2 separate regions of the Homo sapiens genome follow, and region 1 is linked to region 2. The links come from fine-mapping of genetic effects on gene expression. A gene starts in region 2. The other region holds a variant in brackets. All regions are shown on one strand. Distances are between the middles of the regions. Region 1 has its middle 65 kb from the start of FEZF1-AS1. Region 2 holds the start of FEZF1-AS1 (FEZF1 antisense RNA 1).

Evidence for each region. PIP is the estimated chance that this variant, and not a neighbour inherited with it, causes the effect. A credible set is the group of variants that fine-mapping cannot tell apart.
Region 1: its variant is the best candidate, but not a certain one, in a credible set for the expression of FEZF1-AS1 in cerebral cortex (GTEx, PIP 0.66).

The regions. Positions count from the first base shown.
Region 1 is chr7:122,234,486-122,243,783 of GRCh38, reverse strand. It overlaps the pseudogene RPL31P37. Among named protein-coding and RNA genes, the nearest start is that of FEZF1-AS1, 65 kb to the left of the region's middle. The variant C/A (reference allele first, on the strand shown) is at 3,958.
Region 2 is chr7:122,298,843-122,308,140 of GRCh38, reverse strand. FEZF1-AS1 (FEZF1 antisense RNA 1) reads right to left here and starts at 4,483. Exons shown (of 7, transcript NR_036484.1): 1 at 3,873-4,483; 2 at 3,398-3,568; 3 at 1,879-2,853; 4 at 1,481-1,625; 5 at 653-838. FEZF1 (FEZ family zinc finger 1) reads left to right here and starts at 3,391. Exons shown (of 4, transcript NM_001024613.4): 1 at 3,391-4,504; 2 at 4,830-4,964; 3 at 5,210-5,342; 4 at 5,786-6,838. The coding sequence starts at 3,704. The coding sequence ends at 6,144.

The sequences.
Region 1 (9,298 bases), 64 kb after region 2:
CATGTGTTTTTTGGCTGCATAAATGTCCTCTTTTGAGAAGTGTCTGTTCATGTCCTTCACCCACTTTTTGATGGGGTTGTTTGTTTTTTTCTTGTAAATTTGTTTGAGTTCATTGTAGATTCTGGATATTAGCCGTCTGTCAGATGAGTAGGTTGCGAAAATTTTCTCCCATTTTGTAGGTTGCCTGTTCACTCTGATGGTAGTTTCTTTTGCTGTGCAGAAGCTCTTTAGTTTAATTAGATCCCATTTGTCAATTTTGGCTTTTGTTGCCATTGCTTTTGGTGTTTTAGACATGAAGTCCTTGCCCATGCCTATGTCCTGAATGGTAATGCCTAGGTTTTCTTCTAGGGTTTTTATGGTTTTAGGTCTAACGTTTAAGTCTTTAATCCATCTTGAATTGATTTTTGTATAAGGTGTAAGGAAGGGATCCAGTTTCAGCTTTCTGCCTATGGCTAGCCAGTTTTCCCAGCACCATTTATTAAATAGGGAATCCTTTCCCCATTGCTTGTTTTTCTCAGGTTTGTCAAAGATCAGATAGTTGTAGATATGCGGCATTATTTCTGAGGGCTCTGTTCTGTTCCATTGATCTATATCTCTATTTTGGTACCAGTACCATGCTGTTTTGGTTACTGTAGCCTTGTAGTATAGTTTGAAGTCAGGTAGTGTGATGCCTCCAGCTTTGTTCTTTTGGCTTAGGATTGACTTGGCGATGCGGGCTCTTTTTTGGTTCCGTATGAACTTTAAAGTAGTTTTTTCCAATTCTGTGAAGAAAGTCATTGGTAGCTTGATGGGGATGGCATTGAATCTGTAAATTACCTTGGGCAGTATGGCCATTTTCACGATATTGATTCTTCCTACCCATGAGCATGGAATGTTCTTCCATTTGTTTGTATCCTCTTTTATTTCCTTCAGCAGTGGTTTGTAGTTCTCCTTGAAGAGGTCCTTCACATCCCTTGTAAGTTGGATTCCTAGGTATTTTATTCTCTTTGAAGCAATTGTGAATGGGAGATCACTCATGATTTGACTCTCTGTTTGTCTGTTGTTGCTGTATAAGAATGCTTGTGATTTTTGTACATTGATTTTGTATCCTGAGACTTTGCTGAAGTTGCTTATCAGCTTAAGGAGATTTTGGGCTAAGAGAATGGGGTTTTCTAGATATACAATCATGTCATCTGCAAACAGGGACAATTTGACTTCCTCTTTTCCTAATTGAATACCCTTTATTTCCTTCTCCTGCCTAATTGCCCTGGCCAGAACTTCCAACACTATGTTGAATAGGAGTGGTGAGAGAGGGCATCCCTGTCTTGTGCCAGTTTTCAAAGGGAATGCTTCCAGTTTTTGCCCATTCAGTATGATATTGGCTGTGGGTTTGTCATAGATAGCTCTTATTATTTTGAAGTACATCCCATCAATACCTAATTTATTGAGAGTTTTTAGCATGAAGGGTTGTTGAATTTTGTCAAAGGCTTTTTCTGCATCTATTGAGATAATCATGTGGTTTTTGTCTTTGGCTCTGGTTATATGCTGGATTACATTTATTGATTTGCGTATATTGAATCAGCCTTGCATCCCAGGGATGAAGCCCACTTGATCATGGTGGATAAGCTTTTTGATGTGCTGCTGGATTTGGTTTGCCAGTATTTTATTGAGGATTTTTGCATCAATGTTCATCAAGGATATTGGTCTAAAATTCTCTTTTTTGGTTGTGTCTCTGCCTGGCTTTGGTATAAGAACGATGCTGGCCTCATAAAATGAGTTAGGGAGGATTCCCTCTTTTTCTATTGATTGGAATAGTTTCAGAAGGAATGGTACCAGTTCCTCCTTGTACCTCGGGTAGAATTCGGCTGTGAATCCATCTGGTCCTGGACTCTTTTTGGTTGGTAAGCTATTGATTATTGCCACAATTTCAGCTCCTGTTATTGGTCTATTCAGAGATTCAACTTCTTCCTGGTTTAGTCTTGGGAGAGTGTATGTGTCGAGGAATTTATCCATTTCTTCTAGATTTTCTAGTTTATTTGCGTAGAGGTGTTTGTAGTATTCTCTGATGGTAGTTTGTATTTCTGTGGGATCGGTGGTGATATCCCCTTTATCATTTTTTATTGTGTCTATTTGCTTCTTCTCTCTTTTTTTCTTTAGTAGTCTTGCTAGTGGTCTATCAATTTTGTTGATCCTTTCAAAAAACCAGCTCCTGGATTCATTAATTTTTTGAAGGCTTTTTTGTGTCTCTATTTCCTTCAGTTCTGCTCTGATTTTAGTTATTTCTTGCCTTCTGCTAGCTTTTGAATGTGTTTGCTCTTGCTTTTCTAGTTCTTTTAATTGTGATGTCAGGGTGTCAATTTTGGATCTTTCCTGCTTTCTCTTGTGGGCATTTAGTGCTATAAATTTCCCTCTACACACTGCTTTGAATGCGTCCCAGAGATTCTGGTATGTTGTGTCTTTGTTCTCGTTGGTTTCAAAGAACATCTTTATTTCTGCCTTCATTTCGTTATGTACCCAGTAGTCATTCAGGAGCAGGTTGTTCAGTTTCCATGTAGTTGAGCGGTTCTGAGTGAGATTCTTAATCCTGAGTTGTAGTTTGATTGCACTGTGGTCTGAGAGATAGTTTGTTATAATTTCTGTTCTTTTACATTTGCTGAGGAGAGGTTTACTTCCCAGTATGTGGTCAATTTTGGAATAGGGGTGGTGTGGAGCTGAAAAAAAAGTATATTCTGTTGATTTGGGGTGGAGAGTTCTGTAGATGTCTATCAGGTCCGCTTGGTGCAGAGCTGAGTTCAATACCTGGGTATCCTTGTTGACTTTCTGTCTCATTGATCTGTCTAATGTTGACAGTGGGGTGTTAAAGTCTCCCATTATTAATGTGTGGGAGTCTAAGTCTCTTTGTAGGTCACTCAGGACTTGCTTTATGAATCTTGGTGCTCCTGTATTGGGTGCATATATATTTAGGATAGTTAGCTCTTCTTGTTGAATTGATCCCTTTACCATTATGTAATGGCCTTCTTTGTCTCTTTTGATCTTTGTTGGTTTAAAGTCTGTTTTATCAGAGACTAGGATTGCAACCCCTGCCTTTTTTTGTTTTCCATTGGCTTGGTAGATCTTCCTCCATCCTTTTATTTTGAGCCTATGTGTGTCTCTGCACGTGAGATGGGTTTCCTGAATACAGCACACTGATGGGTCTTGACTCTTTATCCAACTTGCCAGTCTGTGTCTTTTAATTGGAGCATTTAGTCCATTGACATTTAAAGTTAATATTGTTATGTGTGAATTTGATCCTGTCATTATGATGTTAGCTGGTGATTTTGCTCGTTAGTTGATGCAGTTTCTTCCTAGTGTTGACGGTCTTTACATTTTGGCATGATTTTGCAGCGGCTGGTACTGTTTGTTCCTTTCCATGTTTAGTGCTTCCTTCAGGAGCTCTTGTAAGGCAGGCCTGGTGGTGACAAAATCTCTCAGCATTTGCTTGTCTGTAAAGGATTTTATTTCTCCTTCACTTATGAAGCTTAGTTTGGCTGGATGTGAAATTCTGGGTTGAAAATTCTTTTCTTTAAGAATGTTGAATATTGGCCCCCACTCTCTTCTGGCTTGTAGGGTTTCTGCCGAGAGACCAGCTGTTAGTCTGATGGGCTTCCCTTTGAGGGTAACCCAACCTTTCTCTCTGGCTGCCCTTAACATTTTTTCCTTCATTTCAACTTTGGTGAATCTGACAATTATGTGTCTTGGAGTTGCTCTTGTTGAGGAGTATCTTTGTGGCGTTCTCTGTATTTCCTGAATCTGAACGTTGGCCTGCCTTGCTAGATTGGGGAAGTTCTCCTGGATAATATCCTGCAGAGTGTTTTCCAACTTGGTTCCATTCTCCCCATCACTTTCAGGGACACCAATCAGACGTAGATTTGGTCTTTTCACATAGTCCCATATTTCTTGGAGGCTTTGCTCATTTCTTTTTATTCTTTTTTCTCTAAA[C/A]TTCCCTTCTCACTTCATTTCATTCCTTTCATCTTCCATTGCTGATACCCTTTCTTCCAGTTGATCGCATCGGCTCCTGAGGCTTCTGCATTCTTCACGTAGTTCTCGAGCCTTGGTTTTCAGCTCCATCAGCTCCTTTAAGCACTTCTCTGTATTGGTTATTCTAGTTATACATTCTTCTAAAATTTTTTCAAAGTTTTCAACTTCTTTGCCTTTGGTTTGAATGTCCTCCCGTAGCTCAGAGTAATTTGATCGTCTGAAGCCTTCTTCTCTCAGCTCGTCAAAGTCATTCTCCATCCAGCTTTGTTCCGTTGCTGGTGAGGAACTGCGTTCCTTTGGAGGAGGAGAAGCACTCTGCGTTTTAGAGTTTCCAGTTTTTCTGTTCTGTTTTTTCCCCACCTTTGGGGTTTTATCTACTTTTGGTCTTTGATGATGGTGATGTACAGATGGGTTTTTGGTGTGGATGTCCTTTCTGTTTGTTAGTTTTCCTTCTAACAGAGAGGACCCTCAGCTGCAGGTCTGTTGGAATACCCTGCCATGTGAGGTGTCAGTGTGCCCTTGCTGGGGGGTGCCTCCCAGTTAGGCTGCTCGGGGGTCAGGGGTCAGGGACCCACTTGAGGAGGCAGTCTGCCGGTTCTCAGATCTCCAGCTGCGTGCTGGGAGAACCACTGCTCTCTTCAAAGCTGTCAGACAGGGACACCTAAGTCTGCAGAGGTTACTGCTGTCTTTTTGTTTGTCTGTGCCCTGCCCCCAGAGGTGGAGCCTACAGAGGCAGGCAGGCCTCCTTGAGCTGTGGTGGGCTCCACCCAGTTGTAGCTTCCTGGCTGCTTTGTTTACCTAATCAAGGCTGGGCAATGGCGGGCGCTCCTCCCCCAGCCTCGCTGCCGCCTTGCAGTTTGATCTCAGACTGCTGTGCTAGCAATCAGCGAGACTCCATGGGCGTAGGACCTTCTGAGCCAGGTGCAGGATATAATCTCGTGGTGCACCGTTTTTTAAGCCCGTCGGAAAAGCGCAGTATTCAGGTGGGAGTGACCCGATTTTCCAGGTGCCGTCCGTCACCCCTTTCTTTGACTCAGAAAGGGAACTCCCTGACCCCTTGTGCTTCCCAAGTGTGTCAATGCCTCGCCCTGCTTCGGCTCGCGCACGGTGCACGCACCCACTGACCTGTGCCCACTGTCTGGCACTCCCTAGTGAGATGAACCCGGTACCTCAGATGGAAATGCAGAAATCACCCGTCTTCTGCGTCGCTCACGCTGGGAGCTGTAGACGGGAGCTGTTACTATTCGGCCATCTTGGCTCCTCCGCCCTAAAATCCTCTTTTCATTCCTAGTCATTCTCTGTAAAGGTAACTACTATTTTGATAATTTCTAGTGTATCCTTTCTAAAAAAAGTTCTGTGCAACTAAAATTATACATTTTAAATAGTTCTTTTATTTTTTTAACTGTAAAGACAGAATATTGCTGCTAGACAGGATCTAGAGCTAGAAAATTTGGGTTGGAATTCTGTCTCCTCTGATGACCAGTTATACAACTTTGAATACGTTTTTAAATCTCTCTGTGCTTCAGTTCCTTCATCTGTAAAATGTGGCCAATACGCTTCAGAGGGCTGTTTTTAGGATTTAACGTATCATTTATGTAAAGCACATTCCTGGCACACAGCACTCAGCAAATGTGGTCTCCAATTAATATTTATATATTAAAAAAGATTATATTTTAACTCTTGTTTCAGTTAGCTTTGCGTGACTGTATTTATATATTCTTGTTTTTTAATCTTTTGTGAATCACATTGTTTTAGATGTCTCATATACACAATATACAATTTAAAAATTGTACCCAATATGAGAGTTTTTCTTTTAGTAGATGAATATATGCCATTTATATTTGTCGATACAATAAATGTATTAGGCTTTATTTCTTGGTGACAGGGTCTTGCTCTGTCACCCAGGCTGGAGTGCAGTGGTGTGATCATAGCTCATGGCAGCCTTGAACTTCTAGGCTCAAGTGATCCTCCCACTTCAGCCTCCCAAGTGGCTGAGACTACAAGTGTATGTCACCATGCCCAGCTATTTAATTTTTTTTTTTTTTTTTGGTAGAAACAAGGTCTTGCTATGTTTCCCAGGTTGGTCTTGAACTCCTGGGCTCAAGTGATCCTCCTGCTTCAGCCTCTCAAAGTGCTGGGATTATGGGCATGAGACACTGCACTCAGCCTTGGATTTTTTTTTTTTTTATGTGTGTGGTTTTTCTTTTTATAAGTTCAACAATGTTTTGTCTGTTTTAAAACTTCTACTTAACTTTATAGCAGTTTATATAATATTACAGTTAATCTTCTATTTTTTAATTTAGCAAATTTAAATGGTTCTATTCCCTGCAGAAATAAATAAGAAAATGAGCAATTCACACTTTCTGTTAGCTCTTTCCTTATCCAATATCAGCTTGACTAAGCCACAGTCCACAGGCCACATATGGTCCAGGATGGCTTTGCATGCAGCCCAACACAAATTCGTAAACTTTCTTATAATATTATGAGATTTTTATTTTTATTTTTATTTTTGCAATTTGCTTTTTAGCTCATCAGCTGTCATTAGTGTTAGTGTATTTTATGCACAGCCCAAGACAATTCTTCTTCTTCTAATGTGGCCCAGGGAAGCCAAAAGTTTGGACACCCTATTGTATCTTAAAAATGTTAGTTACATGGTGAAACCCCATCTCTACTAAAAATACAAAAAACTAGCCAGGCGTGGTGGCGGGCGCCTGCAGTCCCAGCTACTCGGGAGGCTGAGGCAGGAGGATGGTGTGAACCTGGGAGGCAGAGCTTGCCGTGAGCCGAGATCGTGCTACTGCCCTCCAGCCTGGGTGACAGAGCAAGACTCTGTCTCAAAAAAAAAAAAAAATTACATTCTTATTTTCAATATCTTTTGGTAGTTTCCTATATATTTTATATATAGTTAAATCTTGATTTATCAAAATAGGTATGCTGAAATGATAGAATTTCAGTTTGTTTAGTTATGTATATGCGTAGATTCAGTGAACAAAATATTCAATCTCAAAAGTCACTTAGAATTGTGGTTTAAATGATTTGAGATTGTATTTACTTTTATAATCTTTTTCAACTTTTTTAAAAGTTTCTTTTCTAGTTTTTAGTTTATTTTATTTATTTATGTTTTTATGTATGTATGTATGTATATATTTAATAGAGACAGGGTTTCACCACGTTGCCCAGGCTGGTCTTCAATTCCTGGGTTCAAGCAATCTTCCTGCCTTGCCCTCCCAAAGTGCTGGGATTACAGGTGTGAGTCAAAGTGCCTGGCTCAACTTTTATTTTAGATTCAGTAGTAACATGTACATGGGTATATTACATGATGCTGGGATTTGGTATACAAATTATCCTGTCACCCAGGTTCTGATTCTAATACTCAACATTTAGTTTTTCAACCCTTGCCTCCCTTCCTCCCTCCCCCATCTAGTAGTCCCCAGTTTCTATTGTTGCCATTTTTATGTCCATGAGTACCCAATGTTTAGCTCCTACTTATAAGTGAGAACATACAGTATTTGCTGGGTTTTCTGTTCCTTTTTGAATTCGCTTGTATTAGTTCGTTTTCACATTGCTATAAAGAACTGCCTGACACTGGGTAATTTATAAAGGAAAGAAGTTTAATTGACTCACAGTTCTGCATGGCTGAGGAGGCCTCAGGAAACTTAAAATCATGGTGGAAGGTGAAGAGGAACCAAGGCACCTTTTTTACAAGGTGGTAGGAAAGAGAAATGCTGAGCAAAGAGGGAAGAGCCCCTTATAAAACCATCAGATCTTGTGAGAACTCACTTACTATCATGAGAACAGCATGGGGAAACTGCCCCCATGATTCAATTACCTCCACTTGGTCTCTCCCTTGGATTATGGGGATCACAATTCAAGATGAGATTTGAGTGGGGACAGAAAGCCTAACCATATCAGGCCTGCAGCTGCATCCATGTTGAGGCAAAGGGCATGATTTCATTCTTTTTATGACTCCTTCGTATTTCTTGTTATATATGCACCACATTTTCTGTATCTAATCCACTGTTGGTGGGCACCTAGGTTGATTCCATGTCTTTGATATTGTGAATAATGTTGCAATGAAGGTGTGAGTGCATGTGTCTTTTGGTAGAATGATTTATTTTCTTTTGGATATATACCCAGTAATGGGATTTCTGAGTTAAATGGTGGTTCTGTTTTAGGTTCTTTGAGAAATCTTCAAACTGTTTTCCACACTGACTGAAGTACTTTCCACTCCCACCAACAGTGTGTAAGCAGTCCCTTTTCTCTACAGTCTCACCAACATGTGTTGTTTTTTGACCTTTTTAATAATATCCATCCTGACTGGTATGAGGTGGTGTCTCACTGTGGTTTTGTTTTGTATTTCTCTGATGATTAGTGATGTGGAACTTTTTTTTCATGTTTGTTAGCTTCTTGTATGTCTTCTTTTGAGATGTGTCTGTTCGTGTCTTTGGCCCATTTTTTAATGCGGTTGCTTCTTTTTCATTTTTTTAAGTTTTTTGTAGATTCTGGATATCAGACCTTTGTCAGATGTAACTTTTTTGTTATTAATTTATAACATAATTGCATTGTCATAAGCAAATATAGTCTGATAGCAATTTTTAAAGTTTTTTGACCTAAAAGTAAAAAACCTTGCTTGTGGCCTTTTTTTTTTTTTTTTTTTTTTTACTTATTTCCTATGTGCTAGAGAAGAATTTGCATTCTCTGTTTTAGGTGGAGGGTTCTGTATATGTATAGCCTATTTCATTGTTCAAACCTTTTCTATCCATTGGCCTCTCAATAATAGAGAGCTGTGTTGACATCTCTCCCTTTAATGGTGATTGTCCATTTCCTCTTTTTTTTTTTGCAATTTTATAACTTTATTTGATGTATTTGATGATCAGCGATTAGTTCTCATCCACATCGACTGTCTTTAGATTTTTGAAAGTGGTAACAGGTATGTAGGTAACCAAAATATAGAGCTTATTTGGTGAATCTTCATCCTCATTACGTTTTCTGGACAACCGCACACAGATACCGTGTGGGTCATACCTTATTCCTTTGGCCCAGACCTCTTTGTTGCACCTGGTATCAATGTGCACATCTGGAGTTCCCATCTCCTTCATGGCAAATTGCAGAATCTCTTTGAGTTCCCGAGGGGCACGCTTCTTAAGCCCACTCCATGGATGCACTTGTGAATATTGATGGTGTATTCTCGGGTCACCACCTCGTTGATGGCAGAATGGCCCTTTTTCTTCTCATCACCCTTCTTTGCAGGAGCCATTCTCTCGGGTCAAAGTTGGAAAGCTGTCCATTTCTTATTATAGTT
Region 2 (9,298 bases):
AAATCCAAAGAAACTGTAAGAGTTTCTATTTTGCCATTAACAAAACAAACAAGGCTCCCTTGCATTTGTTTTAATAACTAAAAAATACTTGCATTGAAACGTTTTGAAAGCTTCTGAATTTGCTGAATATACTCTGTTTTTATTGCCTTTTTTGTTATTTTCAAATATATTTGGAAATAAAGTACTAGACAGATTGGACGGTAAGATAGAAGCCCTTTCTAAATATATTTTGTGTTTTGTGACAATTCTTATTTAATAGAGATAGTATTACTAATTAACATGTGTTTTTGGTTAGGTTTTGAAAAAATTAACAAATGTTGGATATCAAGGCCTGGAGTTGTAAAGCACCTTTTCAGTCTTTAGTAAACTCAAGGCCATCTTAAAGGAAGAGCATAATTGATGCTTTGCCATATTTGTGTTAACTCAAATGACATTTTCAAACACTTGCCAAAAGGGCAAATCCTGAAAAGACTAGTGAAAAGCAAACTGTTGAAATATAAACTATACAAAGCATGCATACCTCTTAGCCAATATTTTTTCCTTTTTAGTTTGGTATACACCAAAGGAGAAATTTACAGAGGTCAAAGAAAGGCTCTTTTGCAGTTAAGGAGAGGGGAGGGGGAGGAGAGGAAGGGGAGAGTGAGGGACACACCACAAGCGTAAAACGAACTGGTGGCATTCAGTCAAGAAGGCAGGTAAGGCTCCAGAGGCCGCGAATTGTGTACAAGTCAGCTGGACTCTCCAAAGCCTTCCAGAGCCGGGCTGCTTCGCGCTTCTTGGCTTTTTCCTTTCAACCTAGCCCGGTGGCGGAGGAGTGCAGCAGGAGGGGGATTTTTCGCTGCTGGGAAGTGGCAGGTAGGAAAAGGAATCTGATCCGGCCCAAAAGTCAGCAATTAAAGTCTTAACCGCGACCCATCTGTCGTGGGACAGAGAACCCCCCACCCCCCTTTGCCCCAGCAAAGCCCTTCCCGTGCCCTTTGTCTGAGCAGGGGAAAGGAGGAGACTGGTTCTGCGGCCCCAACAGCAAAAGGAAAGAAAATTTCCAGCGCTGACCAATACTGAGTGTCTGCGCCCGGTCCAAGGACAACTACGAAGCGCCTCTCGGGGATGTGGCGCCTCTCCGCTTGCTCTGCCCAGGTGCTCTGTCCCGTGGCCCCAGCAAAAGGAAAGAAAAATTTGCAGTCTGGGCGAATCCAAAGTAGGTGCACCCGGGCCAAGGACGGTTCCAAAGGGCCGCCTTGGAGTGTAGCGCCTCTTTGCTTTCTCCCCCCGGGCGCTCTGCCCTTCTCTGCTGCATCAGTTGTCCCAGCCTGAAGCCACCTCGAGGCCTGAAACGAGGCACTCCCAGGCCTAGCTGCTGAAGCCCGTCGTATTCAGCCAGACCTCTCCCCCCATCTTGCCCCTTGGCTGTCCTCAACTTCCAATAAGACTCACTCCCCCTCCCCCATTTCTTCAGCCTGTGAGCTTTCCCACCACTCACCCAGCTGCCACTGCCTTTCTGTTAGACATCAGGCGCGTTCCCAGCCCAAGCTCTCTTCCTTTCCACCCCTCTTGGCTCTTGGGGCAGAGGCGGAACTGATTTTCGCGGAAAGTTAGAGTGGGGCGGAGGGACCCGGGTAGCTTGCCTGGCATGTGTTGAGAATGGGGTAGAGAGGAGGGAATACTTTGACGTCAATTTCCTTCGTTTAAGGTCCAGTTTCGCATCTTTGAGTGAAATTGCTCAGGGACTTAATAATGCCAGGGTTTCTAGTCCGCCGTTATCCAGCCTTCCGGGGCCAACCCTTTTCAGAGCTCTAGCAGAAGGACGCCCCCACTACACTTGGCCCAATACCTGACACCCGCCACCACCTGTCTCACAGCCACGTGGGGTTAACTCACCAGGCAGATGGCACCTTGAGCTGCTGCGGTCGGCCACTCACTTCAGGGTCCAGGCCCCACCGCCCTTTGCTTGCAGCTCTGCGCGCTCCTTTGGCCTCCTCACGCCAGCTTACAGCTGCCGTGTCTTCAAACTCTGTGCAGCCCTTCCTGCGCGCCTAGCTGCGGGGTTCAGCTCTGCGTGATCGCCGGCTGGCAAGAGACTGCGCCGGGGAAGGTGCGCGCCGCAGCTTCCAGCGCGCTCCTGGACGCTCTTGCCTGGGCGGCGGGAGCCCGCACAGTCGGAGCCGCAGCCGTAGGCGTCTTCCCGGAAACCTCCACACGCTCCACCGCGCCGCCCCAGGAGTTTCGGCCGAGGTGCCACACCCGGCGGGTGTTCGGCTGGGGGGCGTTGCAGGGGAAATGGTCTCTACGCGCGCTCTTTGGGAGGCACAAGTGCACCTGTGGACACAACTCTGGCGCCGGCAAGTCTCCTTGATGCGCACAGACATCCAGGCTGCCGCCTGCGCTGCTTAGAGGAGGCTTGCAGACACCGGCAACCGGAGTGGGGATTAATACACTCTGTTTCCCTTCTCCGCTCGGCATTCAGTATTTAAAATGCTCCGGGAGAGCTCTAGCTGAGCGCAGGTACTTAAGAAAGAAATGCTCTTTCCAGACTCTCAATGGAAACTCGGAAGCGTGCGCGCGCGCGCGTCTGTGTGTATCCTGGGTGGGGTCCGATCGAGTCAAGGTTGCTTGTGGTGTGACACCCAATTATTCCTTGCAACTCCTCAACTTTGTGGATGAAAGTGCGACTTTCCCAGGCCTATTGCCGCGGGCATTGCCTTTACAAAACCACAAACACAGAACAAGCCTCCTAAGGCTTTTAATTTTCGGGGCGTTTGGGGAGGCCAGTTACCTGCCGGCGTCTTCTAAATGGTCCAGACTCGGTTCGGGCCGCGGAGACTCCGGGATTCCGGGAGCGGGCAACCCCGAGCCCTGGAGGAAGAAATAGGTCTGCGGAGGTGGCACAGATCTGACCCGGCCCAGCCCGGCCCAGCCCGGCCCACCCAGGCCCAGTGGAACCAAGCAGCGAAACCTCGGATTTCACTGCCGAGGCTTCCTAGCCGAGGCTTTCTGGAGCTTGGCGTTTGATAAATATAGCCTGGCGTTTGCCCCTGAATTAGACTCCGTTTCCTTATTTAGCCCTTGCACAATGATTTTAGATGATGTCACTTAGAGCTAAACGAGAAAATTGATCTCAGATTTGCTTGGCCTCTAAAGCCTGGTTAAGCAGATTGAGAATTAGAAAGGCAGAGGAAGCAAAAGGGGGGTGGGGATGGGGGGGTGCGGAGGGTAGTGAAGTGTGCGCGGCAGAGTGTGTGCGCAGAGGGGAGGGCGCGCCAAGCGGGTGAAAGCGCCCCCGCCTTTTCTGGGCGGGGAACCTCACTCACCAATGAAAAGTAGTTACTGACTGCAGATGAAAAAAAAAAAAGTTTTCCTGTTGACTGTTGGAAGCGAATTGAGCAATTATCTAGTTTACCTTCTCCTCTTGGAAGTTAACGATTGGCGAGATCTTGGCTGCGTTATTGACACAACACTTTCTATTGATAGAAATAAGTAGTGATTGTCCCCGAGTCATTGGTGCGCCAAGAACTCTGCGATGGGCTGGCAGGAGTCCATTGGGCTGGGCAGGCAGGTTCGGCTGGTGATGCTGGGGAGGAGGAGGAGGAGGAGGCTACTGGTGGTGATGGTGCCCGTCCCCCTCTCCGCAGGTCTGTGACAAGCAGGGAACAAGGCAACGGACGGCGCAACCCAGCCCCGGCTGACGGACGCTGGCGACTCAGACATGGACAGTAGCTGCCACAACGCGACTACCAAAATGTTAGCGACTGCTCCAGCTCGGGGCAACATGATGAGCACGTCCAAACCCTTGGCTTTCTCCATTGAACGAATCATGGCGCGCACCCCAGAGCCCAAGGCCCTGCCAGTCCCCCACTTCCTGCAGGGAGCCTTACCCAAGGGGGAACCCAAGCACTCTCTGCATCTCAACTCGTCGATCCCCTGCATGATCCCCTTCGTGCCTGTGGCCTACGACACGAGCCCCAAGGCAGGAGTGACGGGCTCCGAGCCGCGGAAGGCCAGTCTGGAGGCCCCGGCGGCGCCCGCGGCGGTGCCCTCGGCTCCCGCATTCAGCTGCAGCGACCTGCTCAACTGCGCACTGAGTCTCAAGGGCGACCTGGCCCGCGACGCGCTGCCGCTGCAGCAGTACAAGCTGGTAAGGCCGCGTGTGGTCAACCACTCTTCATTCCACGCCATGGGCGCCTTGTGCTACCTGAACCGAGGTGACGGCCCATGCCACCCGGCAGCCGGCGTGAACATCCACCCGGTGGCCTCCTACTTCCTCAGTTCCCCTTTGCACCCGCAGCCAAAAACGTATTTAGCCGAAAGGAATAAACTGGTGGTCCCGGCGGTGGAGAAATACCCTTCTGGAGTAGCTTTCAAAGACCTGTCCCAGGCTCAGCTGCAGCATTACATGAAAGAAAGCGCCCAGCTTCTGTCGGAAAAAATCGCGTTCAAAACCTCGGATTTCAGCCGAGGCTCTCCTAATGCCAAGCCCAAAGTTTTCACTTGCGAAGTGTGTGGAAAGGCAAGTACAATGCAAAACGGAGATCCTTTCCTTCCCTCCCTTCCTTCCTTCCTTCCTTCCCTCCCTCCCTCCCTCCTTCCCTCCTTCCTTCCCTCCCTCCTTCCTTCCTTCCTTCCTTCCTTCCTTCCTTCCTTCCTTCCTTCCTTCCTTCCTTCCTTCCTTCCCTCCCTCGCTCCTCCTTTCCTTCCTCCCTTTTTAGTATTTTGGGGGTAATTATTTGCATACACTTTTTGTTAAGATTCTCTTCCTCCTACCCTCTCTCTGCCCGGTTTGATTTCAAAGTTACTTGTGCGGCTAACCTGTTCTACGTGTGTTTAATTTTAAGGTCTTTAATGCGCACTATAACTTAACCCGTCACATGCCAGTGCACACAGGAGCCAGACCCTTCGTTTGCAAAGTGTGCGGAAAAGGTTTCAGGCAAGCAAGCACCCTGTGCAGGCACAAGATCATTCACACGCAGGTGTGTTCATCTGTCTCAATTTCACCTAGTTTGCTTCCGAACTGTTTGCAGAAAAACAGCCGATAAAACCTTACTCTTTAGGATAACGTTCATTTAAAAAGTGCTAGCTAAACAGGGTGAATGCCATGTATTGTTTGCTTTTGTTCTGCTTGAAAGTGTTTAAGCATTACTGTGTTTTGAGCTTGCAGAACTTCACATAATTAGAAAATATCTAAATGTCTCTGCTTTTCCTTTCTCCTGCTTAGGAAAAACCTCACAAATGTAACCAGTGTGGCAAAGCATTTAATAGAAGTTCCACTTTAAACACTCATACCCGAATACACGCGGGCTACAAACCGTTTGTGTGTGAATTCTGTGGCAAAGGGTTTCATCAAAAAGGTATGCAAACCAGGAAATGTCTCTCATGGTTAGTCTTATGAAAAGCCATACTTAATACTTTCGGGATGTTTTAGAAGACGATGTTTAAAGTGTAGTTATGTGGCACTTTTGTTGCCATTCTAACTCCCTACTCGAAGTCTGATTAGTATTAGAGAAAAGCATGATTCATAAAACAAGGGTATATGTTTTAACTGCATGCTCTCATTGTATGTAATTGGACTGATAAATGTGTATTAAAATTTAAGGAAACGGCATCACTGTTGATGCGATGCTTGAAAATAAACTTGGGGAGACAAGTGCAGGCACAGATAGTAGCCCTGCACTTGTTGTGGGACCTGTGGCGGCTCTTCTGCTTGCCTGGCGCTACCTTCCACGTGTCTGCTCCTCCCTTTTTAAGCTATTTTTTTTTTCAGAACCATATTCCTGTCATTTGTGTGTTTCAGGGAATTACAAAAACCACAAGTTGACCCACAGCGGGGAGAAGCAGTTCAAGTGCAATATCTGCAACAAGGCTTTCCACCAGGTTTACAACCTCACCTTCCACATGCACACCCACAACGACAAGAAGCCTTTCACCTGCCCCACGTGCGGCAAGGGTTTCTGCAGGAACTTTGACCTCAAGAAGCATGTCCGCAAGCTGCACGACAGCAGCCTGGGGCTGGCCCGCACGCCAGCTGGCGAACCAGGCACTGAACCGCCGCCCCCGCTACCGCAGCAGCCGCCGATGACGCTGCCTCCTCTGCAGCCGCCGCTGCCAACCCCGGGGCCCCTGCAGCCCGGGCTCCACCAGGGCCACCAGTGATCGAGGCTAAGGGTCCTCCCAGCCTCAGCCGTGCCCCCACGCTGAGGCAGCGGCAGACTAGAGCTCCTGGTCCGAGTTCGTCTGCAGACCCCAGGGCATGTTGGGCCCCACACTTCAGGGCCGACCAGAAGCCTCTGCATCCCCTGGCCTTTCGCCTCTTGCATGCACCTGCTAAATGGTTTTGTGTATTATATTCTATATAGGCACTAACAATTATGAAAAATTTGGAGGGTTTTGCTTGTTTTCTGTTTTTCTTTTTCTTTTTTTTTAATTTGGAAAGACTTTTCATCTTGGGTGGAGAGATGGTGTTTATTTTGTTTTGTTTTGTTTAAACAAATTTCTGCTATATTTATTGAGATCTGTATTATTCTACCCGGGAATGCTGCATCATTTTAATTTTATTATTGTATATATTTCCATTGTGTTGATTCTCCGGTCTCAAGATGTCTGCTGGATGTTGATCATTTCCTCTTTCCCTGAAGTAACAAAACACTGTGTGTATGTCATATATACACGCATAGATGTGTGCGCCCATAGGGGTACATTCCACATTCGTGAGCACACACCCATACACATTAGATAAGGGTGGTTCATTATGGATGATTTTGAATTTTGGTTTTGATTATTGCACGTGAAAATTGATTCATTGACTGTTGGAAATAAATACTTGGAACATGCTTATTTAATCAACAAACTTTAGGGCTCTGTTCATACTATTCAGCTAAAGATCCCTGACTCTGACCCCCTCATCCCTCCGCCTTTTTAAAATCTAAAACCCTGGATTAGTAATACTTAATGTTTTGGTCTGAAAATCTATCAAGTGCAAATAGTCTCTTCTAAATGGTTACACCTTTGGGTAAAGTTATGAAATCTGGTAAAGTTCAGAAGCAGAAGACATGGAGTTTTCTAATAGAAACATAAATTTGGCTTGGACCACCTGATACGTTCGTAGTGCACAGTTAAATGGGAACAACGTATCCAGTAGCTGTATGCAATGTACATCTCCTCAAACGCATTACAATCATAGATAGACAGGTATCTATTGTTTGCATCCTGACGGCACATACTGACTTGTACACAGCTGGCAAACGGAGCCTCCGTGTTTTTACATGTGTATGTATGTTTATAGACGAATATACTTCCATTCAAGGAGGAAACATGGATGAAAACCAAACTGTGGCGGGTGCCAGGTCCTTGAAATGCTTCAAGTGTTAATCAGCGGCTCCGCTGTGAGCTCGGGCTCTGGTGTTTCTAACTGCACGTCTCTCCTGTTTTCTTGCCAAAACAATGAAACAACTGCTAAAGACTTTAATTAAGAGGGGTAATTAGTTCAGATTTATCAAAGCCGGGTTGTTATACTATTAGCTGCTCAGTAGAAGCTGCCAGACAAACAGCCCAGCACCGTAGTGCTACTGCAGCGGGGCCACATCCCGGGAGGGCGACTGGGGGGAGCGGGCCCCGGGGTCCTCGCCTCGCCGCTTCGGACTCCACCACCCCGCCAGGCCCGGGGCCAGTGCGGCCAGCCCCGCAGGCCTCAGGGGCCCCGTGGCCCCTCCCCCGGCCCACTCTCTCCCTCCAGGGCTGTTGTCGCGGAGAATCCACCATCGGTCCACACCGCGGGCCCAGGTTCTACAGAGTCCAGGGATCTCCTTTCTGCACCCACCGTAGCGCGTCCTCACCAGCTCCGGGACCGCCCCGACAGTTGCGGGGAATAAACTTAAATCTGTGGCCCCGCCTCACTTCTATGAGTCCTGCGGCGCCCAGGAAAAGGCGGCGCGGAGCTGAGAAAGGCGAGACCGAGACCGGAGATGTGCAGGGGACACTGCAGGGGCGCGGCGGCTGCCACCCGAACTCACATTTCATGGCGGGGAAAGACTGACCGCTCTGGTCACCGAGAGTGGGTGACCTGAGTGCTTCTCAACGGCCTAGGAAGCAGGGAGATTACTAACAGCCCCTGTGGGGTGATCGCGGACGGGTAGGTGACCCAGCCCCGCAGGGACCCTCACGCCAAGTCCGGCCTGAGCTCCTTCCGGGTTGTGGAGCGAGGTTGGGGGAATCTAGAGAGCACGGACCTGGTGTGGGCTGGGAAGGTCCCCAGAACAGGGAGGTCCTGACACTTCCTGCAGACATCGGGTCCAGACCTTTCTCAACGCTTGTGCTAGTACGCACGCCCTTTGGACACAGGGAACAAGCTCCAGCCCAGCCATTATTAGATCGAAAACCGATGTTTCTCCTTTCCTGACCTCATGCCCCGACCTTGCCCACTGTTGGGGCCAAATCCATGTTAGATTTGACTTCGGAAAGCGAGGGAGCGAGGGTCTTGGAATTCCATAGTTGGCTGGATTCCGAATCTATGCGGCCCTAAGTAGCTCCATCTCTCACAGAATATCACAGCTGATTTGATAATCTTGTCTCAGGCTCTGGCCACATTCCATGACAGCTGCCTGTCACGAAGGAGTTTTGAGAGATGCTGCAGAGTTTATGAATCACCCTTTCCAAAGTAGCTTAGTTGGATTTTTAAAGCATTCGGTTTGAGTAAATGTGAATGAGATCAGGAGTCGTTATAATTTGCAACCTATACATTTCAGTGAAAAAGCAGAAAATGGCCTTTGCTTCTTGAACTTGTCAATACATATTTGAACTTATTCTCAAAACCCAGGGTGTAGATTCTTCTAGACATTCGAGATGACACGATCTTACTGGTGGAAAGCAAAATGAATATTATTGAGGAAGATTACTCAACCATTAAATACCCCAGGCCAGTGTACTTTGACATATTGGGGTTGGGGGTACTCTTCTATGGAATAATATAATTGGTTTGTTTCAATCCAGAAAAAAAGAAAGAGAGAAAGGAGGGAGAAGGAGAAAAGAGAGGGAGGTTGAGAGAGAAAGAGAGAGAGAGGGAGAGGAGAGGAGAGGAGAGGAGAGGAGAGGAGAGGAGAGGAGAGGAGAGGAGAGGAGAAAGATGAGGAGAGGAAAAAGAAAGCCTAAGAAGAAAAGATGAGAATGAATAGAATAAGAGAAGGAAAGAAACAGAAAAAATAGAGAATCAGTTATCGTACATTCCACATTGTAATGTGGAATGACTTTGTTATAAGGTCTGATCTGGGATGGTGCAATAGTTCCAGTTAAGGCAGGCACAAGGAAATTATTG